Homo sapiens: one gene and its partners. The protein of the gene in region 4 purifies or fractionates together with the protein of the main gene of each other region. This does not show direct contact. Each region holds a gene or a part of one and is shown on either strand. Other genes may lie near its edges.

Region 1 (4,246 bases), on a different chromosome or scaffold from region 4:
GTAATTCAACAAGAGACTGATTTAAGTTTACCAGTAAGAACTGAGACGCTCTCTATTTCTACCAGAATGCCTCATATTTTAATAATTTTTGACTATGTTGTTATATAAGAAAAATACAATTTTTGGATTTTTGAGGTCAGCTCCACTAACAAGACAGTCTTACTTACTTCTCAAATAAAAAACCCTTGTTACCTCCATTTGCCCTAATATATAACACTTAAAAACCTCTCAACTGGCATCTAAAATTATAATCACTGTCTTCCTATGACTGGATTGGAAAAAATAAGAAGTAGTCACTAATAAAAAGCCAACAACTACAAAATTCCCCAGGCTCCCCAGGTCATATAATAACTACTCTGCTTAAGCAATTTTATCCTCACTGTTTCAGATATGTCATATTTGGTGTTCTATTTGCTTTTTAAGGAAGTAGACATACAGTCAGGTTTTAAAAGCCTCAATCCATTAAATGACTATTTCCAACATTTAGAGATTCCTGATACATTTCTCATACTTAACAAAAGAAAACTTTTATGGTATCAAACTTATCTGAATATAAAACTATACAATAAATGGATAATTACTTTCTTTCCGATATCCCCTCAAACTGTATATATAGCCTCCCTACTTTGAACATTCATTTTAATATAATTGGTGCTTGAGAACCCAAATCTAAATTTTTTAATTCCAAGAACTGACTTCGTATTAACCTGAGTTAAGGTTGTTGGTTTTAAAAAATTACACACACACACACACACACACACACACACACACACACAGAGAGAGACAGAGAGAGAGAGAGAGGAGGAAGTAGGAGTTCGTTCATTTTACTTGGATAAACTTGCAAACTGGATACTAAGACACTTTCATGTCAGTTTTAACAGACATCTGCTTACTTCCTCTCAGGTTTAAAATCTATCAAGAACGACAACTCAATGTCTCCTGCATTTTTAGCTTATGTTAATACTTATGTATTTTTAGCTACTGGTAAGTGGATATAAAACATATAGCGTATCACTAGAGATTGAAAAATATCTGAAAAACTAGAATTGGCCGTGCGCGGTGGCTCACGCCTGTAATCCCAGCACTTTGTCAGGCCGAGGGGGGCGGATCACAAGGTCAAGAGATCGAGACCATCCTGGCCAACATGGTGAAACCCAATCTCTACTAAAAATACAAAAAATTAGCAGGGCGTGGTGGCGCACGCCTGTAGCTATTCGGGAGGCTGAGGCAGGAGCATCGCTTGAACCCGGGAGGCGGAGGTTGCAGTGAGTGAAGATCGCCCATTGCACTCCAGCCTGGCAACAGAGTGAGACTCCGTCTCAAAAAAAAAAACCACAAAAAACCACAAAAAACAAACAACAAAAAACCAAAAAAAAAAAAAACCACAAAAAACTAGAATCATGAAAATCATCTGTTTGAGCAAATCCTTTTACAGATTAGATGTAAGCTGTACCTCAGTTTGATAAAGTACTATAAAGTACTTTACAATAACAATAAACTATACGTGAGACGTTGGAAGCAATTATCCCTAAAGTCTATTCCAGCTCTAAGATTTGGGTTTTTTACAATAACAATAAACTATACGTTAGACGTTGGAAGCAATTATCCCTAAAGTCTATTCCAGCTCTAAGATTTGGGTATTTTACAATAACCAAACATTGTCCTCTCGACTGGCCAATCTGTTTACAGTTAGGTGTTATGTCTATTCAATACCATATCTGTCACATCAAGCACAAGACAAATCATCTAATACTATCTGCAGTATGATAAATGACAGCTTGGTGCTAACTTTTAAGCAGGTAGCTCCCGTTGAAGTAACCTTTCAACAGAATGCTTAAAGCACGAATACCGGCAAAAATAAGATTCCATAACAGTCTTATTATTTTTACACAATCTTTGATGCAACTCAGAGCGTATCCTTTAGCACCTTCTCTTTTCCCCTCAACTTTAAAATGGGGCTGAAGTTCTATTCACTTTCATTTTTTTAAAGCCACACTCTTCTTATCTAGATCTGAATTTCAGAATGAAAAGATGAATACTTTAAGACTGAAAATCCATAGCAAGGGCAAAGGAAAGTACTGTTGTATAATGAAAACCGCAAACTGCAAGGGGCTCAGAAGATAACGGGCGTTCATTTCTAACCTGTGCAATCACCTAGAACAAATCGTGTGGTTCTGGTCTATAAAACCATTCTTTGTCGCTCAAAAGACCACAAATACAAGCACCCTTTCGCAGAAACCCTCAAACTGACTGCCAGGGAGATTACGTAACCAAACATCGCCAAAGACTTATCTAACTTGTACAGCGGCAGCCTGTTTGACCTCATTCATACAGAGAAGCGATCACATTAAGATCCAGCACTTGTTTCTACATTTCCAAGCCGGATTCTGCCGTCCTCCTCCTTCTAAGACGGGCGGTGCAGCGTCACAAGCGTCGGGACAGATCTATCCGGCTCGGAACAGACTTCGCGCTCTACCCGGCCAGGCCCAGCTCTCACCCGGGGACCCGTGTCGGGCTCCGCAGCTGGGACATGGCGCCCCCCGGCGGGCGGCGAGGGGCTCGGCCGGACGAAGCCCAGACACCCGCAAACTCCCGACTCCACAGGTAGCGGCGCCGACGCCAGGGCCTCCGCGCTCTGCTCTCCCAGGCCCCGTGCCCCCGGCCCACCCGGCCGCCCTTACCATGTTCTCGGCGCCGACTCCGCCTCCGCTCGGCCGCGCGCCCTCCCGCTGCCGACCCGCGCCGCCGCCGCCGCTCTCGCAGCACCGACCGCCGCCGCCGGAGCCGGACAATACCCCGTGCCCGCCTCGCGCTGCTGTGGCCAATGCCCGCTTGTCTTGCTGGTTCGAACCCCAGCGGCTGTTCAATCGCGCGCCTCCTTCTAGCCAGACCCCGCCCCCCCGGCACCGCCTTCCTAACGGCTGTTTGTTTTTGCACACGGCACGCGGAGGCGGGGCCTCCAGCCCCAATAGTGACGCGCTCTCTGCCTTTCACCAGGCGCCCAAGCCTGACGAACAGAAAGGCAAACCAATGAGATTGGACGCCTCGCAGACGAAAGCCAATAAAAATATCGCCCGCGAGCAAGGGAGGCGGGCCACTGGGAAGGACAGCAAAATTAGCTAATAAGGTGAAGCGATTGCAGGCGCTGTGGCTTTCCCGCCCATTCGCGGCGTTGGTTTTCCCGCTTCTGAGACTTGTTTGGGGAGGTAAAGAGTGTTGGACGTGCTTCTCCTGGTGGGTTTTCACAGACTGTGAGGATTTATTCGTCTTAGAACGTGTGGATCAGGAGGGCGCTGGGTTTCAAGGTTAGGCAGGCCTCATGCTCAGCCGTATTCTGGCGGACTGACTACCCTGACGTCCTCTCAGCGCGGACCCTGACAAGGTCCGCGGCAGGCTGAGGCGGGAGAATCGCTTGAACCCCGGAGGCGGAGGTTGCAGTGAGCCGAGATCGCGCCACTGCACTCCAGCTGGGCGACGCATCGTCTCAAAACAAACAAACAAAAACAAAAGCTATCAATTGGCTACATATTGTTATTTGTATGACAAATTCTTTTTCCTTTTTTAGAGATGGAGTCCTGGGACTACAGGCGCGCGCCCCAATGCCCAGCTAACTTTTGTATTTTTAATAGAGACGGGGTTTCTCCGTGTTGGTCAGGCTGGTCTCGAACTCCTGACCTCAGGTGATCTGCCCCCCTTTGCCTCCCAAAGTACTGGGATTACAGGCGTGAGCCACCGCGCCCGGCATGTATTACAAATTCTAAGAACACGAAGATAATGGGGCCGGCTTGGTGGCGCGAACCTGTAGCCTCACCTACTGTCAAGACTGAGACAGGAGGATCTCTTGAGCCCAGGAGGTCGAGGCTGCAGTGAGTCATGATCGCACCACTGCACTCCAGCTTGGGAGACAGAATATACCCTGTCTAAAAAATAATAATAAAAAAAAAGGTAATGGATGAGGCCGATAGTCAGGAATGAAATGACTTTAAACAATTGGGTATGCATGGGATTGGGTATGTGTGTATGTGGGGGCAGAGGGTGGGCATAACCGAAGTCCCATACTCATGTCCCTCTAGGCCTAATACATTTTGCAGACCTCACAGAGCTCAGACTGTTGTGAGCCGTTTTTCTTTTCTCAACCTCTTCAGTGTGTTTATTTTGCTTACATCATTAGGTTAAAATTTGGAGGATAACTCCCAGCTAGAAAGGAAGAAAAGCTCTAAAGTGGAATCGCCTTCCCCCGGAAGCT
Region 2 (3,500 bases), on a different chromosome or scaffold from region 4:
CGCTCGGGAGGCTAAGGCAGGAGGTTTGCTTGAGCCCGGGACGTTGAGGCACAGTGAGCTATGATTATACCACTGTACTCCAGCAGGGGTAACAGAAGGAGACCTTTTCTCAGAGGAAAAACACACACAGACACAGAAAATAATAACTGTTGGTAAGAACATGAAGAAATTGGAACCATTGTGTACTGACTGTAAAATGGTACAATGAGGCTGGGCATGGTGGCTCACACCTGTAATCCTAGCACTTTGGGAGGCCATGGTGGGAGGATCACTTTGAGGCGAAGACCAGCCTGAGCAACACAGTGAGACTCTGTCTCTAAAAAACAAACAAACAAACAAAAAACACACAACAAAAAAAAAAAAAACAGTACAATCACTATGAAAAACAGTATAGAGGTTCTTCAAAAATGTTAAAAACAGAATTACATTATGAGCCAGGTGCAGTGGTTCATGCCTATCTCAGGACTTTGTGGAGCGGAGGCATGTGCATCACTTGAGGTTAGGAGTTCAAGACCAGCCTAGCCAACATGGTGAAATCCCATCTCTACTAAAAATACAAAAAATTAGCTGGGCGTGGTGGTGCACACCTGTAGTGCCAGCTACTCGGGAGACTGAGGCAGGATAATTGTTTGAACCCAGGAGACGGATGCTGCAGTGAGCCGAGATCGTGCCACTGCACTCCTGCCTGGGTGATACAGTGAGACTCCATCTCAAAAAAAATGGTTAAGGCCAGGCACAGTGGCTCCTGCTTGTAATCCCAGCACTTTGGGAGGCTGAGGCAGGCAGATCACTTGAGGTCAGGAATTCCAGACCACCCTGGCCAACATGGTAAAACCCCGTCTCTACTAAAAATACAAAAATTAGCCAGGTGTGGTGGCATGCACCTGTAGTCCCAGCTACTCAGGAGGCTGAGGCAGGAGAATCACTTGAACCCAGGAGTGAGCTGAGATCACGCCACTGCACTCCAGCCTGGAGGAGAGAGCAAGACTCCGACTCAAAAAAAAAAAATTAAGACAGTAAAATTTTGCTATGCATTTATCACAATTTATAAAAAAAAAAATCAAGTGTCACAAGCATATACAGCATGCCAACTTTCTTCTAAGAATGTGAAAATAAGAATATACACAGTAAAAACTGGAATGAACTCCAGAGCTCAGAGACAGAAGCAAGACTTAACTACTTTTTCTTCAGCCTCCGTCTCCTGGGTGCAAGCAATTCTCCTGCCTCATCCTTCAGAGTAGCTGGGATTACAGGCATGTGCCACCACGCCTGGCTAATTTTTGTATTTTTAGTAGAGATGGGGTTTCACCATGTTGGCCAGGCTGGTCTCAAACTCCTGACCCCAGGTGATCTGCCCCCCTCGGCCTCCCAAAGTGCTGGGATTACAGATGTGAGCCACCACGCCCAGCCAGTACTTTTTCAATATAGTATTTAATTTTATTCCTTCTTGGTCACAGGTGCTTAAAAATTTTTTTTCAGTAGATTTTAAACCATGTAAATAACGTATTAAAAAAACTAAATTACGTCTGGGTGCAGTGGCTCATGCCTTGTAATCCTAGTATTTTGGGAGGCTGAGGAGGGAGGAACCGATGACCCCAGGAGTTCGAGCCCAGACTGGGCAACATGGCAAAACCCAGACTATACCAAAAAACACAAAAAATTAGCCAGGCATGGTGGTGCGCACTTGTCGTTCCAGCTACTTGGGAGGCTGAGGTGGGAGGATCACCCAAACCTGCGAGGTTGAGGCTACAGGGAGCCAAAACTGCACCACTACACTCCAGCCTAGGTAACAGATTGAGATCTTGTCTCAAAAACAAACAAACAAAAAAACTAAATTAAGAGGGAGAAAAAGCAAACCCTAATAATGAATACAAACAAAAACTGTGAAATTTGATAATCAAAATAAACAAATTCAACAAACAAGCTGAAAAATGTTATTTCAAGTAACTTTTGAAGAAAGTTCATCTTTAATGCAGTATACGCTAAGAAAAAAAAGGACTGGAAAAAAAACTGCACTTGGTAGGGTTATTGTTAGTAAAATACTGGCATTATAAATCTGACTCTGTTTTCTGTGTAGAAAATGCCACTAATGTTAACTTTGATTAGGAATTTAAAATACCAATGTAGGCCAGGCACAGTGGCTCACGTCTGTAATCCCAACACTTTGAGAGGCCAAAGTGAGCGGATCACTTAAGGCCAGGGGTTCGAGACCAGCCTGGCCAATATGGTAAAACCCCATCTCTACTAAAAATACAAAAATTAGCCAGACGCCTGTAATCCTAGCTGCTCGGGAGGCTGAGGCACAAGAATCGCTTCAACCCAGGAGGCAGAGGTTGCAATGAGCCAAGATTGCACAACTGCACTCCAGCCTAGGTGACAGAGGGAGACTGTCTCAAAAAATAAATAAAATAAAATACCAATGTAAGCTGATGATTTTTAATATCATGTTTTCTAGCTCTGTCCACTGAAAAGGGCATACAAGCAAATGCATACACCACCAAGCATCCAAATCCTGGTTTATAAATAATATTTTCTACCAAAAGAACTGGGACTCCTTGGAGAAATGGGAAGATACAAAAGGAAAGGAAAAGACAAGAAGGACTTGGGTTATTGTTTTGCCAAAAAAGCAAAGGAGCCCTCAAATTAACTGGGGTTAGTGCCAGGTGCTTGGGAGACTGAGGTAGGAGAATCACTTGAGCCCAGGAGTTCCAGGCTGCAGGCAGCTATGATCTTGCCACTGCACTCTAGCCTGGGCAACGAAGTGAGACCCAGTCTCAAAAAAAAAAAAAAAAAAAAAGACCAAAAGCAATAAGGGCCAAATACCTGCTCCTGCTTAAAGACTAAAGAGATACGAAATATCTAGATTGGGACCGGGTGCGGTGGCTCACACCCGTAATCCCAGCACTTTGGGAGGCCGAGGAGGGTGGATCACAAGGTCAGGAGATCGAGACCATCCTGGCTAACACGGTGAAACCCTGTCTCTACTAAAAATACAAAAAATTAGCCAGGCATGGTGGCGGGCGCCTGTAGTCCCAGCTACTCGGGAGGTTGAGGCAGGAGAATGGCGTGAACCCGGGAGGCGGAGCTTGCAGTGAGCCAAGATCATCCCAGCCTGGGAGACAGAGCGAGACTCTGTCTCAAAAAATAAATAAAAAAAGAAAAGAAATATCTAGATTGGATACTGGATTAGAGAAAGAAAAATTCTGTGAGATGTTACTGAGACAACTAGAGAAATTTGAGTATGAATTTTCAATACTATATAAATGTTCAATGTCCAGAATTAGTTAATATTGCGGGTACTTAACTTGTTCTTGAGCAGAGAAGTGCGGAGAAGTGCATATCTGTGAATAACACTAAATGGCTCCGAAAATAATACATGAGGGGCTGGGAGGCAGGAAGGGAGGAATAAAGCAAATGTGACAAAATGTTAAAAATGGGTGAATCAGAATAAAAAGTACATAGGAGTTCTTTGAACTATTCTTCCAACTCTTCTGTTAGTT
Region 3 (3,500 bases), on a different chromosome or scaffold from region 4:
CTGAAAGACTGTCAGATGTGTGCCAAATTTTTGTAAAGTATGGTTCCAAAATTCTAGATCCTCACAATACATATATGTAGATACCAATTCATCTTTATTGTGCTTCTAACTTACTTTAAGAGCCTAAAATCACAGTAAGTTGTTTTAATGACAGCTATACAGAATGAGCCAATCAATGAATACTGGGACAATTTGAACAGACTGCCTCTAAATCCCTACAAATAAGACATACAGCTTTCCCTATGAATCTTGACTTTTAATTAGCATCTATAGCAGGCAACTTGTAAAATGTGAATCAATTATTTCTAATGGCCTTTAGATATCATTCTGAAACTGCCAAAATGAAGCTAATATCAAAAAAGTATTTTTCATATATCAAAATTAGAAATCTTTATCCTGATTTAAGATGTCTCTGTCTGATATGACTACAACCGGCTTTACACATTTTTATCTTTAATCACTGCAAATTTAATGGGATCAGCTAGACATTTTTGTAGCCTACACCACATGGTACTGCTTTGGAAGTTTTATAACCTGGAATTACTAAGTTTTTCATAGGAAAAAAAAGTCCATAAAGATGCTCTTTAGAAATATCTAAGTATTTTACTTTATTTATTTATTTTTTTTTTTGAGACAGAGTCTTGCTCTGTCGCCCACGCTGGAGTGCAGTGGCATATCTTGGCTCACTGCAAGCTCAGCCTCCCGGGTTCACGCCATTCTCCTGCCTCAGCCTCCCGAGTAGCTGGGACTACAGGCGCCCGCCACCACGCCCAGCTAATTTTTTCTATTTTTAGTAGAGACGGGGTTTCACCGTGTTAGCCAGGATGGTCTCGATCTCCTGACCTCGTGATCTGCCCGCCTCGGCCTCCCCAAGTGCTGGGATTACAAGCGTGAGCCACTGCACCCGGCAGAAATATCTAAGTATTTTAAGATAAAATTCAGTTTAACTTAAAATGCTTAGTTTAGCACAGTCAATTTTATGTTAAAAATCTGCAAATTCTGATATTTGGGAATCAGAGTCCCTGGGTCTAACAAAGCACCAGGCTGAGTGGCAGGAGAAGGAGCACAGCACTTGGAGCTGGCACTGGCTGAAAAGCCAGCATCTTTGGAAAGTTCTCATTAACAAATTTATAATTAACACATGTAACTTAAAGCGAAAAGAAGAATCACTAAAAGCCATTTCCTCAGATTAAAAAAAGACAAAGCTCCTTGAATAGAGTCCTCAGATATTCAATATTTTCTTTAAACAGCAATAAAAGACTTTTAAGGGGCTTCATGTTTCAACAAAAGTGTCCACTTTACAAAACCTGAAATACAATAGGAGGGTGGCAATTAAAATAATTCCCAAGAAAGGATTATCTTTAATACGCTGTTAAATTCAATAAGATCTGTGCCTTCCTATTATCAAATCAATAAATACTGATATTTTTCACAATCAGCTAATAACAAAAGGAAAATAAGAAGACATTTACCTCTTCTAAGCTAGGGAGCGAAGAAGAAGATACTGTTCGAGATGACAATGGGTGAAATGGCTCTTGACCAATAGCATGTTGATGATTCTGTATTTGTACAAAAGGGTTCTGCGGTGGCCTGTGAGGCAATGGAGGTAGGCCATAGGGAAAACCTGGCCCCATTAGGTGATTCTGTTGCAAGTTAGCAAAAGTCCATGCTCCATCAGGTGCCAGGTATTTCAAGGGAGGAGGGGCAAGGTGTTCAGATGGCAACGAGAAAGGTGAGTTGAATATCTGGGGTGGGAGGCGCTGTGGAAATGCTGGGTTGCTGGCTACTTCAATGTCTCTGCTGTTATCATTAAAGTTAGAAAAGTGGCTACTGTGGTCTGTACTGGATGGGGGAGATGGGACTGCTGGTGGGCTTCTACTCTGTACTTGTCTATATTGCAAAAGTCTTGATTGAGGTGGTGGCATTTCAGCTAGTTCCCGTGTTTCACTTTGATCACGATGAGACAGTTCTCTGATTAAGTCTTGAAACCTACATGAAAACAATAAAATATGAGGAGAAAACAAAAGGCTCCATCACATTAAGGAAAGCTTAGTCAACTACACATGTATTTTCAACAAACAAAATCATAGTACTAATAACTAGAACTGGCATTAATTCATCTCAGATGTAAGCATTAACACTCAATAGATGCTGAGGTGAAGAAATTAAATATGCTCAATTACCTGATTTCTTTCTGTTCCCATTGTATTAAAAACATCTGTCCTTGTCTCTATACAGCTTTGACAACTGGAAGTTATAAAAGGTCACCATGATGGTGGACCTTATTCAGAAGGGATTAGGAAACACTTCAGAGCATTCATGTGACACTGGCCACAAAAACAAGCTTAGAGTTAGGACCAAATACTCATATGTAGCTGGAATTATAGGAATGTAGAATTCTGTGCCACCATAAAAATAATTAATGATATAATTTTTAGCTTTTAACCACGAATTTACTCCTGTCTTTATTCATTCTTTGCAAGTATTACTACTAAATAAAAAAAGCTGCTCACAGTGATGGTATGTTTCTCTCGCAGAAAAGACCACAAAGTAAGGGAACAAGTTAATTTCCAACCCATAGTAGATCATCCATGCCTAAATTTGTAGAAGAGTTACTTCTAAATGAGTTTTCTGTATTTTAGAGTCAACAAGAGAACTGTGTAGCGTGTGCTTGGAAGGCCAGCATCCAATTTCTCTGAGGCAATATTCCAGCTTGAAGCTAAAAGGACTACAGTCAAAAAAGAGAACAGTGAGGGGGTCGCATTCCAGGGGCTATTTTCAGTCCGCTGGAATACCTTGAGTATGTGGTCTCCACTTCATCTTCGGCACTGCTGGTGAGCTTCCAGTCTGCCCTCACTGGCGGCTGATGTAATCCCAGGGGCGGCTGAGGAAGATGCTGGAGGTGAGGATGGTGATGGTGTGGGTATGGAGCGCTGCCCTGACTGAGAAAGGCATGATGCTCGCTCCACTGCTGGAACCGTGCCTGCTGCTGCCTTAATGTTTCCAGAGCGACACTCCCATGTATACGATCTGCAAAAATATTTGTGAAAAATTTTTTATGAATTTGGGGTTTCAAGTTCATTATTTAAAGTTTTTTACTAACATATTTTCTCCACAAAGACAAAGGACGTAGCTACAAATTTGGTTTTGGTAAGAAGTAAATGTTTTCTAAATTTGCCAGAAATCAGTTATGGTGATGATGATGACAACTCTTCCTCACTTACATAATGATGATCCTGACATCCACTGGATACTATCATACAGCATTTAGAACTAGTTTCTGATTATCACACTAAATGGGGGGGTTTTGCTAGCATTATTTGAAGAAACAATTCAATCTTAACCCAAAATGATATTATACAGTCCAAGTCATGTTAAGTAATCTCTGAATTTTCACATCTGGCAGTAATAGAACTTACCTAAAGCCTCCCCTATAGGTAATCCCGAGGGGTTCTCATCAATGAAGCTATTCAGATGTGAAGGAAGAATGGGGCCGGGTT
Region 4 (3,500 bases):
GCTTGAACCCAGGAGGCAGAGGCTGCAGTGAGCCGAGATCAAGGCATTGCAGTGCAGCCTGGGTAACAGAGCAAGACTTTGTCTAAACAAAAACAAAAACAAAAAATTCTTTTTCTCAGAATAGCTACATTCATCTCATCATTATATAAAAGACTTACTAAAAATTAAAGCCTTGGATTTGACTCTAGGTAAAGTGCATGGAGAATAAACATGAATCATTATTTGTTTTAGTATACTATTAGTATAATAATTGAAACAGACTACTCATATTCCTGCTTATGTGACATACTTGTTTTTGTTTTGTTTTGTTTTTTTGAGACAGCTTCTTGCTCTGTCACCCAGGCTGGAGTGTAGTGGCATGATCATGGCTCACTGCAACCTCTACCTCCTGGGCTTAAGCAGTCCTCCCATTTCAGCCCCTCAAGTATGTGGGACTACAGGCAAGTGCCCTCATGTCCGGCTAATTTTTTAAATTTTTTGTAGAGACGAGATTTCGCTGTGTGACCTAGGCTGATCTTGGTCTCCTTGGGCTCAAGTGATCCTCCTACCTCAGCATCCCAAAGTGCTGGGGTTATAGGCATGAGCCACCATGCCAGGCCTGACATACTTGTTTAATTAAGAGAAGTAGGCAACAAAATAACTTATTAATATAATACATAGATGATTGAAGGGAATTTGTTTTGTTGACTGCTCTATTTTTATACTGCCTAATAAAAGCATCTGGGATCTTTGTTTAATAACTTATTTTTTCTTTTTCAGAGCTATCCATTTTTTATTTTGCCCTTAAAAAAATTCCTTTTTTTTTTTTTTTTTTTTTGCCACAAGCATTTAACTGTGAGGTATTTAGGAAAACCTAGTTTTTTTTTTCTTCTAGAAACTTTTTGTCTCTGGGTGCTTTCCAGTTACTTTGTGCCATTTAGAGCAATGCCAGGCATTCATTTAATATTTTCATAAACATGGCTTTTTTTTCATATTTAAACATTTGAACTTTATTTTGATGAGTGAAGGGTTAAAAGAGATACACTACCTTTCTCCTTATTTAAGACCTCGCCTCTCTCACCCAGAAAATAATCATTAATACTGTATTTAAAATTCTGAACATCCTGTTTGAGGCAAAATATTTGCAGAGTACTGCTTCTTTTGTATGTTTTTCCAGAGATACTCTGTATATGCAAGCATGATTATTGTCTCTTATCTGCATAGGAATAGATATTAAAAGTATTATTACTGTAATATATTCATCATATTCTTAACTTTATGTTTAGACCCCTCGGAGACAGAAAAAACTCTTTTGCCGCTACCATGATGGAAACCGTAATCCTAAATTTATTCTGGCTCCAGCTAAACAGGAGGATGAATGGGACAAGCCTCGTATTATTCGCTTCCATGATATTATTTCTGATGCAGAAATTGAAATCGTCAAAGACCTAGCAAAACCAAGGGTAAATAATGTTTTCTTTCTTTCTCCTCAATTTACTGTACCTTTGTATCAATTTTTCTTTGTAAAAAAATAGGATAATTGATATACGAATAATGCCACAGATTTTTTAAAGATATTTTGCCTCAGCATAATGGAGTTACTAATGATGCTGTGTTTATGCCAGTTTTTCCATTTGTTATCAACACAAGTAATGTACCCTTAACTGGGTTTTAAGCACTGAATTATGAAAATTATTGTGAGATTTTTATTCACCATTAACAAATTTGTGTTTCACTGTCTTCCTGATAAACTTTTCTCTGTATTTTGGAGTCTTTTAATCTCAGAGGCTACTCAAAGCCCAGCTTTTTCACTTCTGTATTTTTACTGAAAGAATACCGTGGAAGTATTTTTATTCCCTTTTAGGCACATTGTTACTATTATAAAAAGATATAATTGGGCACAAGTATTATGTTAATTTGAAATGGTGATAGTTTTCTGACTTTAACCCACAGAATTTATCTTAAAAAGAAAAAGAATCTAACGTAAACCCAATCTATAAGCTTAGTGTTGAGCATAAAAACTCTTTAGTGAGAATGTGGAAAAGACTACCCTTTATGCTCTTGCCTTTTCCCCCATCAGCTTGTTCTTAAAACATATTTGGTCTTCTTGATAGTAAAATACAAGCTGCCATCACTTTCATAAAGAGATTGTTGAATAAATTCTAGGCATGCTTTGCTGTCTTACACAGGAGTTGGCAGATTTTTTCCATAAAGGTCAATATTAGATATTTTTTAGGCTTTGGAGGCCATATGATCTCTGTCATGACTATTTAGTTCTGCCATTATAGTGCAAAAGCAGCCAAAGAAAATATGTAAATGAAAGAGTGTGGCTATATTACAGTAAAATTTTATTTCCAGTGGCAGGTAGCAGGCTGAATTTGGTCTGTGGCCATAGTTTGTTGACCCTTATTATATCAAAGGTTTGAATTATCTGGATATCTATACTACAAAATGAAGTTAGAATTTCTTTTAGAGTTTTTCTGCTTCTCCAAATTGGTGGTTTTTTTTTTTTTTGGCCAAAGATTACATTATAAATGCAAAAGACTGGTCTAACATTAATATATATTATTGGTGCCATCCAAGGTAATTAATTCATTTCAACTTGGAGATCAAGTTATATTCTGGAGATTCCTCAATTTGGATTGTTTTTGATCAATAAATTTAATGGCAATAAAATTTCATGCTCTCACAACCTCAGAATCATCGTTCCATTAAAAAAAATTGAAATTATTATCTAGGCGGTCACCTCTTTCTTGCTGTTTTTAACATTTATGAGCTCTTTTCCTCTGCCTTTGTTCTCAGTCCAAGATTATTTCACTGTATATGTTAATGAGAGTGGCTATCTTGAAGGGACAAAAGATTGACCTTAAAATGAATTTTAAACATTAACCTGTGCAAACAGTTCCATCACTAAAAAAAATTAAAGTCAAAGGTTTTGGAATGGATCATTAATTGCAAATAGGCATTCTTCTTTTTTTCCCCTTCTCTCCCCACCCCCAGATGGCTATTTTAACTGTAAATTAGACTTCAAATTTTAGATATGTCTCTTTTTCTTACTGTCATGTCCTTTCACCATTGAAAGAAATTTAATTTCCAATCTCTTTTGTTTGTATGTCCTCCATCTATGCAAAACAAAAAATTGAAGAAAAAAAAAAAACCCCAAAAACCTAAAAAACTAACTGGCTTTCAAGGCTCAGCACAAGGTGACTGGAAGTGTATGGAGTTATTTTCTCTTTTTAGCCTCCTTTGTAAAAACCCTGGAATTCTGACTGGTTGGGTAAATGTGATTCAGTTTTTTGTTTTGTAATGCAACTATTTTGATGGTTGGCTTCACAGCTGAGGCGAGCCACCATTTCAAACCCAATAACAGGAGACTTGGAGACGGTACATTACAGAATTAGCAAAAGGTAAGAGATGTGTATGCTGCATATTTTGCCCTCTAATGAGTGTTTTATACATCTTACAGGAATTATTCATTTAAGGAAAGTGGGTCATTTTCAGTCACCAGCTCAAGTCACCAC
Region 5 (4,260 bases), on a different chromosome or scaffold from region 4:
ATAAAGGTTGACTGTGTAATCCTAATTCTATCCCATGTGTGATGGTTAATTTTATGTATCAACTCGTCTGGACTAAGGGATGCCCAGATAACTGGTAAAACATGATTTCTGGGTGTGTCTGTGAGGATGTCTCTGGAGGAGGGTAGCATTTGAATCAGTAAACCAATTAAAGAAGACTGCCCTCACCAAATGGGTAGGCATAATGCAATCCTGTGGAGGATGTGAATAGAACCAAAAGGCAAAGCAAGTGCTACGTTTTGTTTGTCCCCACAAAAACTCATGTTGAAGTCTGATCCCTGATGTGGCCGTGTTGGGAGGAGGGACCTAGCAGGAGGTGTCAGGGTTACGGAGGCAGATCCCTCATGAATGGCTTGGTGTCATTCTTGCAGTAGTGAGTGAGTTCTCTCTCTCATGAGACTGAATTAGTTCCCTCAGTAATGGATCAGTTCCCTCGAGGCTGGGTTGCTATAAAGCCAGGACACCCCTCGGATTTTGCTTCTTCACACATGTCCACTTCCACTTTGACTTTCCACCATGTTGTGACACAGCAGGAAAGCCCTCCCCAGGAGTCCAGCAGATGCCAGCACCACGCTTCTTAAACTTCCCAGCCTGCGGAACTGTGAGCTAAATAAATGTCTTTTCTTTATAAATTACCCTGTCTCAGATATTCCACTATAGCAACACTAAATGGACTAAGACAGGAAATGAAAAGGAATTTCACCTGCAGAATAGGAGACTTTACAAAGACTGATACCCTGAATGAGCGAGGATGTGGAGAAGCAAGCACTGTCAGTCAAAAGAGTGAAAATGGGTCTAAGGTTTCCGAAAGGCAATACGTATCCCAGTTTAAAATGTGTGTTACCTTCAGACTCAGCAATGTCCACTCCTCAAAATTTATCTTACGAAAGTAACTGGACCAGAATGAGAAAATGAATACAAAGGACATCCATTGCAATTTCACTTACAATCGTTTTTAAACTATCAATAAAGTAAAAGGTGATTTAAAAAGAATTGGTAACATATACTATGACACAAACATATAACAGAATATGATGCAGTTACGTAAAAATGGTGATACAGCAGCAATTCTCAAGCTTTTTGATCTCAGGATCCCTTTACAATCTTAAAAATCATTGAGCACTCCAAAGAGCTTTTGTATATTGTAGGGACCATGGAGTTGTACCACTGAGATCTCCCTTCAAAGGCACCTACTGTGAGGAACACAGTTGACTTCCACTCTCTAGCCTCTAACCCTGGCATCTGCTGATGCACTGCAGCAAGGTCGTCCCTTTCCTGGGCTGCTTCCAGCCAATGATTGGACATGGTGGGGAACTCCAACTGGGCCATTTCTGGGACAATCAGCACAAAGTACCAAAAGTTGGTTCCTTCAAAGTATGAATAAAATACACAAAACTTTGGCAAGATTGAAGGGGAGAAAAGGATAGATATGAGGAATGAAATAGAGAACCTACCTACAGATTCAGTCAGAAGTGTTATAAAATCATCGGTGAGTATTATGAACCTTGGACAGAACAGGCAGTTTCAAAAAAAATTGTAACTTACTAAATCTGACTCTAGAAGAAACAGTAAACTGAAGAGGCCTATAACTACCAAAGACATTAAAAGAGAAGTGAAATATAACTATATAACAGTTGTTGGCCCTCATAGTAACCTAATCACTTTCCCTCTTTGGATAAGAGAATGCCAGTGTCAGGGAACGCTTCAACAGGGTTGGAGAAGTTCCACATATCTCCACCCTACTAAAGGGGCAGAAGTTCAGGGGCACAGTTAAGATGACTCAGAGAAAATGAAATTGCTCAGTCGCAGGTCAAGTCAACCCTTCAGATCAATTTATGTACCTAGGGCATTAACCTAGGAATGTCTTAAACAATGGAATGCCGCCATTCCTTCTCAACAGGAAGTGGGGGAAACACGCGATTGGTTTTCAAACAGTTTTCAAACAGTAGACAATACACATAGCTGCTGTAACAAAGCAGCTTCGAAAGAGATCGAATGTGTGCGCCTTTATACAAAACTTGGGACCCACTGAAGTCTGACAGCTAAAACGGATTACATGTCTGCAAGGTATTAAAACAGAAAACAAAGAACCTGGGATGGATTCAGGACAAAAGTGTCTTAAAAATTTAACAGTGCCCGTGGGCCAGAGTGTCCACAACACTCATTTTATCTGGACAAATACCAGTAGACTTTCGTATTATGACCCACTTCTGTTACCGGGGTCGCCGGTCGCGGCCCCACGCCCGAGTTTCTGAAGCCACCGGAGCGCTGGGCGCCACAGTTCCTCCTTCCTCTCCTGGCAACGCCTCAAGCCGCCGCCCTCCTCGGTCCTCGCAGTGTCCCCAGCGCCCGCAGCCCTCCCTACGCTCAGGCGGCGCCCCGGCGGCGACCCACCTCCTCGGCGTCCTGGCCCAGAGGGATGCCCAGGTTCCTGAGCCCCTCCTGCAGCTCGCCGATGTCCACCACTCCGTCCCCATTGCGGTCCAGTGCCTGGAAGAGGGTCTCGTAGCGCGTCGGCTGCTCCGCGTCCTGGCAGGCCGCGGTGGGCAGCACGAAGTCCCGCAGCCAGCGCAACATGGTCCCAGAGGCGCAGGCGGCCTGGCCGAGGAAGTCACGGGAGATCGAGGGCTGCGGGGCGAGACCGGGACCAGCGCGAGGCCGGGCTGGGCGGGGCGCGCGGCGCAACAGCGTTTGGGGCGCCGTCGGGGTTGCGGCTGCGGCGCGCAGGGCGCAGGGCGCAGGAGCGGAGACCCCACCCGAGCCCGCGCGGAGCGCAGGGTGTGGCCGTCCCGCCGCTGCTGGGGAGGAGCTCGCCGCGCTGGCCTCGGCGGCACTGGCCGGGCCCGCCTCCAGAGAGCCGGAAGTGAGGGAGCTGGGAGCTGGGTCTCGGGAGGTGCTGTGCGGACCCGGGGTCGACCTCTGCCCAGTTGCCAGTCCCGCTGTCAGCATGCGGGTCCGAGGAAGAGGCCCCCAGCAGGTCCAGGGCTGCAGCGTCAGCGCGTCGGTGGCTTGGGAGCGGGGTCTTGAAGACTGGTTACTCCACTTAAAGACCCTCTCGGGCCGGAGCCTTGGCGGTCAGCCCAGAGCTGCTTCTCTCTGCCTGGAAACTGGGCCATGGAGGGCATTGTCTCTCACGGATGTCTAATTTTTTCGTGGTTGCACACCTGGGATGGCGATTCTGCTTTAAAAAGCAGAGAGTTAAATCCTAAAGCATCTATTGGAGCAATTATAAAACAAAAAGGAGAAACTCCTGGATTTGTTGCAGAAAAGATCAACAGCCATCTGCGTGGGCAACGGGGAAAAGAAGGACTAGTTTGGTAGGCAGCTTAGCTAGGATTTGCCCGTGATTAAGCGTATAGAGTGTCTGCCAGCTGCACTTATCAGAAAAAACCACAGCGCCCTCCTCCTTCTCAAGATGGGTGCAGTTCCGAGGTTTGGAGCTTATTACTCAGGCAAGACAGAACTTATTACTGCCTAGCATGGAATAACGGAAGGAACATTGGACTTAACAGAGAAAGTACCTAATCCTTCAGGTGTGACATAGCGTCTCCGGGTAGTCTCTCATCAGTAAAATGAGAATATAAATATCTGCCTTCACAACAAAGTTGTATATTAGGTGTGAAAGGTCTTAATTCTCTAAGGCGCCAATCAAATGAGATATCATTAATTGTAATAATCCTGTTCATTCACAGCTGCGTAAGAGGAACTATTGTTGTACTGCTGTTTGCAGAAAAGAAGATACCTCTGTACTTGTAAATTAGGGTGTCTCACATCTTCTGAATCACTACACAGAAATCAGTTCCAACAACAGCCAGGAACTCAGACCCTGAACTTACCTCTCCTCATATCATTTTGTATGTTTAAGATATGTATGAATCTAGAATTTGTAAATTAAGGGCTGCCTGCTTAGTAAAATCATCTTGAAACTGATTTATCTTTTTATATTACTTCCAACTTCCAGTCTTATTAAGAATCATTGCCTTCCTTTGGAACTGCCTTCAAACTTCAAATTTTCTCTGTCCTTGAAAACCTCTTTTAATCTCTACTCTGAATACTCTGTACTTGAAGAGAGGTTGCTTGAACTAGTCATCTTACACTTACATGCTTTCATTTTACTTTTTATTTATTTCTTTTTTTTTTTTTTTTTTCTTTGAGACAGTCTAGCTCTGTCGCCCAGGCTGGAATGCAGTGGCACAATCTCAACTCACTGCAACCTCCGCCTCCTGGGTTCAAGCTATTCTC
Region 6 (3,500 bases), on a different chromosome or scaffold from region 4:
GTAATTACACGTTTGGCACTGGCCAGGTAACAGAAAAATGGATGAACAGTACAGAGCCAAGAAAACAAAAAAGAGATCAATGTGTGTGAGTATTTGGTGTATGATATAGGAGATACTTTAATTCAACAGTGGGAGTATATAAAAGGCTAATGTCTATCTCACGACAGATAGAAATTAAATTCAGATAAATGAATAAGCAAAAAACTATAGAAAAGTTAGAACAAAATACAGGATTTATATATTTTTGGTAAAATAGGCACAAAACTCAGGAACCAGTAAGAATTAAAACAGAAGCACATTAAGGAAAAATAAAACTCCATATGATAAAAGACACCATAAACAAAGTTAAAAACATACCAACATTGGAGGAAATATGTTTAATATAGAAATAAAAGATTGAAGAGCATGTGTGTCTGTGCATGCATGCATGTGCATATTTGGTGTAAGGTTTTCAAAAGAATAAAATAGATGTTACTGTCCCTACAGAACCCCAAATGATTCAGAAAATTAACCAGACACTGAAAAAAGTATGGAGAAAAGGGGAAGAAGACAAGAAGGTAATGAAATGAAGACAGAACGTTTAGAAGAAGGTATACTTAATGAATCGTGAGAAATCTTCAACTTTCCCGCCCAGCTATGGGGATTTCAGAAGCTAGGTGTCCATTCCCCAAGTAAATAAAATTATCCTTTTCTAAACAAACTGCTTGGCTCAGGAATAAGATATAAGGTTACTATCACTGGGAATCCACCAGCAAAAAGAGTGGCCACATGATTACACTACTGTGAAACACCATAGGCCAACTGACAATGCCCCATACAAAACACACAGTGCTTCCATATGCTTGTGTTTTGTTTTGTTTGTTTGTTTGTTTGTTTGTTTGTTTTTGAGACAGGGTCTCGCTCTGTCACCCAGGCTGGAGTGCAATGTCACGATCTCAGCTAACTGCAACTTCTGCCTTCCAGGTTCAAGCAATTCTCCTACCTCAGCCTCCTGAGAAGCTGGGATTACAGACTCCTGCCAGCATGCCCAGCTAATTTTTTTGTATTTTAAGTAGAGACAGGGTTTCACCATGTTGGCCAGACTGGTCTCGAACTCCTGACCTCAAGTGATCCACTGTGCCTGGCTCATATAGCTTGTTAATATCTAATCTGTAATAGGAACAAAAATCCAGAGATCACATATCTCAGAGATGAAAATGGGTAAACAGAAAAATTTGAGAGGAAACCGTCCTGGGAACAGAGGAAAATCTCAACTATCCTTAGTATCATCAAAGAAATAACAAAAAGATATGCAGCCATGAAACAAGAATTGGAGAGTATAAAAAAAGGAACACTCAGAGAACAAGAAAGATTCTTGGATATTAAGAATCTGGGCCGGGCGTGGTGGCTCACGCCTGTAATCCCAGCACTTTGGGAGGCCAAGACGGGCGGATCACGAGGTCAGGAGATGCAGATCATCCTGGCTAACACGGTGAAACCCTGTCTCTACTAAAAATACAAAAAATTAGTCAGGCGTGGTGGCAGGTGCCTGTAGTCCCAGCTACTCAGGAGGCTGGTGCAGAAGAATGGCGTGAACCCAGGAGGTGGAGCTTGCAGTGAGCCGAGATCGAGCCACTGCACTCCACCCTGGGGGAGAGAGGGAGACTCTGTCTCAAAAAAAAAAATAATAATAATCTGATGGAAGATGTTAAAAATCCAATACAAGGGTCAAGGAAATACCTCAAAAAGCCAGACAAAGTCTAAGATATGAAAAATAGGAAGAAGAAAAGAAAAACTCAGTAATTAAAAGAAGAGGTCCAACATCCAACTATTAAAAACAACAGAGAAAATCAAGGCAAGGAAACTGTCAAAATAAGAATATCCATAATAATAACATTTCTAAGAATAGAAGGACATTAGAATCTCAGAATGAAAAGACTCACCCAATCACCCAATAATCACAATAAGAAAAAGAAAATCCACATCAAAGCTCATTTTTATAAAACTTCATTTACATCAGACCCAAAGAGAACATCCTAACAGCTTCCACAGAGGAAAAACACATTATAGAAAGAGAATCTATTCTGCAAGAATGGTATTGGACTTCTCAAAAGCAATAGCAGAAGCTATAAAGGAATAAATAATGCCTTCAAAGCTCTATGGAGAAAATAATTTTCAACTCCAAATTCTACAGCTTACCAAACCTTAAAATTATTTTTTCATCCAAGCATCCTTTAACAAGAAGTTATAGGACACACTCTTCTAAAAGTTGGACATGAAATCAAGAAAAGAGTGAGATCTAATAATAAACTCACCCAGAAGTGAGGTAAAGACATCTCCTAGAACCATGATGATAAGAAAATCCCAAGACAACTCTTGTACAGCAGAACTAGAAGACCAGTCCAGATTATAGTAGGAAGGTTTCCAGGAGACAGCTCAAAGGAGAGGAAAAAATGGGACTTACACATTTTTTAACAGATCTGATTGTATAGAAAGCTATATTTAAAGCCTTCTACAAAGCTGCTGGAGAGTATGAAAAAACCTTAAATGTTCAAAGAAAATTAGACAAACGGGAAAAATGAGGGGCAGGGGAGGAGCAATTAAAAACCAAAAAGGTTATAAAATGAAAAGACAGTATGATGAAAAATATTTATAGGTTTTTGATCTCTCTCTCTTTTTTTTTTTTTTTTGAGACAGGGTCTTGCTCTGTCATCCAGGCTGGAGTGCAGTGGCACGATCGATCTTGGCTCACTGCAACCTCCACCTCCCAGGTTCAAGCGATTCTCTTGCCTCAGCCTCCCGAGTAGCTAGAACTACAGGCATGCGCCACCATGCCCAGCTAATGTTTTTTGTTTTTGAGACAAGGTCTCACTCTGTCACTCAGGCTAGAGTGCAGTGGTGCAATCACAGCTCACTGCAGCCTCAACCTCCCAGGCTCAAGCGCTCCTCCCACTTCAGCCTCCCAAAGTGCTGGGATTACAGGTATAAGCCACTGTGCCCATCCTTATTTATGGATTTACAATGATTAAAAAAAAATACTGAAGCTGATTATTGAAACCTATTCTGTAGCTATATTGGAAAGATAAGGAATGAGAAAACAAAGTGTAAGTGGGTTAAAATTCTCACTTACCGTAACAGATACATAATGTCTACAGCTAACAGAGAAAGAAAGAAAGCAACATAGATCTACTGTTAAACACATGGTGGAAAATACCAGAAGAAAGAGCTAAAATATTTGAAGGGAGGTGGAGGTGGTACTTTTTGTTACAAGCAGTTTAACATTAGCTAACTTCTTAAGCAATATGCACATGCTTTTTTTTGAAAACCAAAAACAAGTACATTAGCAAACTACTGTAATCAAGAAAAAGATAATGTAATAGAAAAATGAGCAAATAATATCAACAGGTAATTTAAAAAATGGCTTATATAAGCATATGAGAACATGGTAAACCAGGATGAGCAATCAAGACATAAACAAATTAAAAGAGATGCCACTGGAGGTAAAACAAACAAAAAATGTG
Region 7 (3,261 bases), on a different chromosome or scaffold from region 4:
TTTCCAAATGCGAGTTGAATTTGTAATGTCTTCTTTCAGGATCCACTGAAAGATGGTGAGGCAAAGATCAAAAGCGACTATGCACAACTTCTTGAAGACATGCAGAATGCATTCCGTAGCCTTGAAGATTAGAAGCCTTGAAGATTACAACTGTGATTTCCTTTTCCTCAGCAAGCTCCTATGTGTATATTTTCCTGAATTTCTCATCTCAAACCCTTTGCTTCTTTATTGTGCAGCTTTGAGACTAGTGCCTATGTGTGTTATTTGTTTCCCTGTTTTTTTGGTAGGTCTTATATAAAACAAACATTCCTTTGTTCTAGTGTTGTGAAGGGCCTCCCTCTTCCTTTATCTGAAGTGGTGAATATAGTAAATATACATTCTGGTTACACTACTGTAAACTTGTATGTAGGGTGATGACCCTCTTTGTCCTAGGTGTACCCTTTCCTCATCTCTATTAAATTGTAAACAGGACTACTGCATGTACTCTCTTTGCAGTGAATTTGGAATGGAAGGCCAGGTTTCTATAACTTTTGAACAGGTACTTTGTGAAATGACTCAATTTCTATTGTGGTAAGCTCATTGGCAGCTTAGCATTTTGCAAAGGAATTGCTTTGCAGGAAATATTTAATTTTCAAAAACATAATGATTAATGTTCCAATTATGCATCACTTCCCCCAGTATAAATCAGGAATGTTTGTGAGAAACCATTGGGAACTATACTCTTTTTATTTTTATTTTTTATTTTTTTTATTATTTTTTTTTTGGGGACGGAGTGTCCCTCTTGTTGCCCAGGCTGGAGTGCAATGGCGTGATCTTGGCTCACTGCAGCCTTCGCCTCCCGGGTTCAAGTGATTCTCCTGCCTCAGCCTCCCGAGTAGCTGGGATTACAGGCATGCTCCACCATGCCCAGCTAATTTTGTATTTTTAGTAGAAACGGGGTTTCACCATATTGGTCAGGCTGGTCTCGAACTCCAGACCTCAGGTGATCCGCCCACCTCGGCCTCCCAAACTGCTGGGATTACAGGCGTGAGCCACCGCGCCTGGCCAGGGACTATACTCTTTTTAAAATAGACATTTGTGGGGCTCACACAATATATGAAATAGTACCCTCTAAAAAAGAGAAAAAAAAAATCAGGCGGTCAAACTTAGAGCAACATTGTCTTATTAAAGCATAGTTTATTTCACTAGAAAAAATTTAATATCAAGGACTATTACATACTTCATTACTAGGAAGTTCTTTTTAAAATGACACTTAAAACAATCACTGAAAACTTGATCCACATCACACCCTGTTTATTTTCCTTAAACATCTTGGAAGCCTAAGCTTCTGAGAATCATGTGGCAAGTGTGATGGGCAGTAAAATACCAGAGAAGATGTTTAGTAGCAATTAAAGGCTGTTTGCACCTTTAAGGACCAGCTGGGCTGTAGTGATTCCTGGGGCCAGAGTGGCATTATGTTTTTACAAAATAATGACATATGTCACATGTTTGCATGTTTGTTTGCTTGTTGAATTTTTGAACAGCCAGTTGACCAATCATAGAAAGTATTACTTTCTTTCATATGGTTTTTGGTTCACTGGCTTAAGAGGTTTCTCAGAATATCTATGGCCACAGCAGCATACCAGTTTCCATCCTAATAGGAATGAAATTAATTTTGTATCTACTGATAACAGAATCTGGGTCACATGAAAAAAAATCATTTTATCCGTCTTTTAAGTATATGTTTAAAATAATAATTTATGTGTCTGCATATTGCAGAACAGCTCTGAGAGCAACAGTTTCCCATTAACTCTTTCTGACCAATAGTGCTGGCACCGTTGCTTCCTCTTTGGGAAGAGGAAAGGGTGTGTGAACATGGCTAACAATCTTCAAATACCCAAATTGTGATAGCATAAATAAAGTATTTATTTTATGCCTCAGTATATTATTATTTAATTTTTTAGGTAATGCCTATCTCTTGGTCTATTAAGGAAAGAAGCAATCAGTAGAGAATTCAGGATAGTTTTGTTTAAATTCTTGCAGATTACATGTTTTTACAGTGGCCTGCTATTGAGGAAAGGTATTCTTCTATACAACTTGTTTTAACCTTTGAGAACATTGACAGAAATTATGCAATGGTTTGTTGAGATACGGACTTGATGGTGCTGTTTAATCAGTTTGCTTCCAAAGTGGCCTACTCAAGAGGCCCTAAGACTGGTAGAAATTAAAAGGATTTCAAAAACTTTCTATTCCTTTCTTAAACCTACCAGCAAACTAGGATTGTGATAGCAATGAATGGTATGATGAAGAAAGTTTGACCAAATTTGTTTTTTTGTTGTTGTTGTTGTTTTGAATTTGAAATCATTCTTATTCCCTTTAAGAATGTTTATGTATGAGTGTGAAGATGCTAGCGAACCTATGCTCAGATATTCATCGTAAGTCTCCCTTCACCTGTTACAGAGTTTCAGATCGGTCACTGATAGTATGTATTTCTTTAGTAAGAATGTGTTAAAATTACAATGATCTTTTAAAAAGATGATGCAGTTCTGTATTTATTGTGCTGTGTCTGGTCCTAAGTGGAGCCAATTAAACAAGTTTCATATGTATTTTTCCAGTGTTGAATCTCACACACTGTACTTTGAAAATTTCCTTCCATCCTGAATAACGAATAGAAGAGGCCATATATATTGCCTCCTTATCCTTGAGATTTCACTACCTTTATGTTAAAAGTTGTGTATAATTGTTAAAATCTGTGAAAGAATAAAAAGTGGATTTAAATTAACATTTTTTTCTTTTTCTCTTTTTTATGGCACAATCTGCTAGAAAATATGTACCTTGTATCTTGACTTAATGTTTTGGTATGACCTTTTAAAATTTTTTCCTTCCTTTTTTATAGATTGTTACTTAAGATTATGAAATTGAATTGGAGCCCTCATTATAGCCTGCAAAAAGTCCCATAACTGTATCACACTATGTTTTGGAAATATAATCTACAGAATCCCATCCCATTCTGAATTTTACTTTGAGAAAGTGAATGGTTTCTATAAATTCACTTCTAAGTGCAAGGAAATCAGTGGTACTCTTCAGTTTTTAACAAGTAAACTAAAGCCTTGTAATTTATGATTTTGCAAGCCAATTTAAAGTCCAATATAACAATGTGCAACATCCTTTGTAGCAATTCATTATGGTACGTAGGATATATTTTATTTCCTTAAATGTTGTATTTTTAACAATTTCCAAAGGAGTGAAGAAGCAGTGTCAAAGAACTGTATATTACCATTG

The links.
Region 1: the proteins of P4HA1 (region 4) and H2AZ2 fractionate together in Homo sapiens (co-fractionation; one large-scale study listed by BioGRID). This does not show direct contact.
Region 2: the proteins of P4HA1 (region 4) and WDR33 purify together in Homo sapiens (affinity purification with mass spectrometry; one large-scale study listed by BioGRID and IntAct). This does not show direct contact.
Region 3: the proteins of P4HA1 (region 4) and HELZ purify together in Homo sapiens (affinity purification with mass spectrometry; one large-scale study listed by BioGRID and IntAct). This does not show direct contact.
Region 5: the proteins of P4HA1 (region 4) and SLC25A24 fractionate together in Homo sapiens (co-fractionation; one large-scale study listed by BioGRID). This does not show direct contact.
Region 6: the proteins of P4HA1 (region 4) and PRPF39 fractionate together in Homo sapiens (co-fractionation; one large-scale study listed by BioGRID). This does not show direct contact.
Region 7: the proteins of P4HA1 (region 4) and ATP6V1A fractionate together in Homo sapiens (co-fractionation; one large-scale study listed by BioGRID). This does not show direct contact.

The regions. Positions count from the first base shown.
Region 1 is NC_000007.14:44,845,288-44,849,533, forward strand, and holds the start of H2AZ2 (histone H2A.V), read right to left. Parts: upstream 2,801-4,246; 5' UTR 2,685-2,800; coding exon 2,682-2,684; intron 1-2,681. UniProt on the Homo sapiens protein: Variant histone H2A which replaces conventional H2A in a subset of nucleosomes. Nucleosomes wrap and compact DNA into chromatin, limiting DNA accessibility to the cellular machineries which require DNA as a template.
Region 2 is NC_000002.12:127,801,172-127,804,671, forward strand, and holds part of WDR33 (pre-mRNA 3' end processing protein WDR33), read right to left. Parts: intron 1-3,500. UniProt on the Homo sapiens protein: Essential for both cleavage and polyadenylation of pre-mRNA 3' ends.
Region 3 is NC_000017.11:67,105,697-67,109,196, forward strand, and holds part of HELZ (probable helicase with zinc finger domain), read right to left. Parts: coding exon 3,420-3,500; intron 3,031-3,419; coding exon 2,796-3,030; intron 1,990-2,795; coding exon 1,473-1,989; intron 1-1,472. UniProt on the Homo sapiens protein: May act as a helicase that plays a role in RNA metabolism in multiple tissues and organs within the developing embryo.
Region 4 is NC_000010.11:73,044,867-73,048,366, reverse strand, and holds part of P4HA1 (prolyl 4-hydroxylase subunit alpha-1 isoform 2 precursor), read left to right. Parts: intron 1-1,265; coding exon 1,266-1,442; intron 1,443-3,315; coding exon 3,316-3,386; intron 3,387-3,500. UniProt on the Homo sapiens protein: Catalyzes the post-translational formation of 4-hydroxyproline in -Xaa-Pro-Gly- sequences in collagens and other proteins.
Region 5 is NC_000001.11:108,197,544-108,201,803, forward strand, and holds the start of SLC25A24 (mitochondrial adenyl nucleotide antiporter SLC25A24), read right to left. Parts: upstream 2,801-4,260; 5' UTR 2,596-2,800; coding exon 2,413-2,595; intron 1-2,412. UniProt on the Homo sapiens protein: Electroneutral antiporter that mediates the transport of adenyl nucleotides through the inner mitochondrial membrane. Originally identified as an ATP-magnesium/inorganic phosphate antiporter, it also acts as a broad specificity adenyl nucleotide antiporter.
Region 6 is NC_000014.9:45,097,616-45,101,115, reverse strand, and holds part of PRPF39 (pre-mRNA-processing factor 39), read right to left. Parts: intron 1-3,500. UniProt on the Homo sapiens protein: Involved in pre-mRNA splicing.
Region 7 is NC_000003.12:113,809,296-113,812,556, forward strand, and holds the end of ATP6V1A (V-type proton ATPase catalytic subunit A), read left to right. Parts: intron 1-39; coding exon 40-132; 3' UTR 133-2,761; downstream 2,762-3,261. UniProt on the Homo sapiens protein: Catalytic subunit of the V1 complex of vacuolar(H+)-ATPase (V-ATPase), a multisubunit enzyme composed of a peripheral complex (V1) that hydrolyzes ATP and a membrane integral complex (V0) that translocates protons.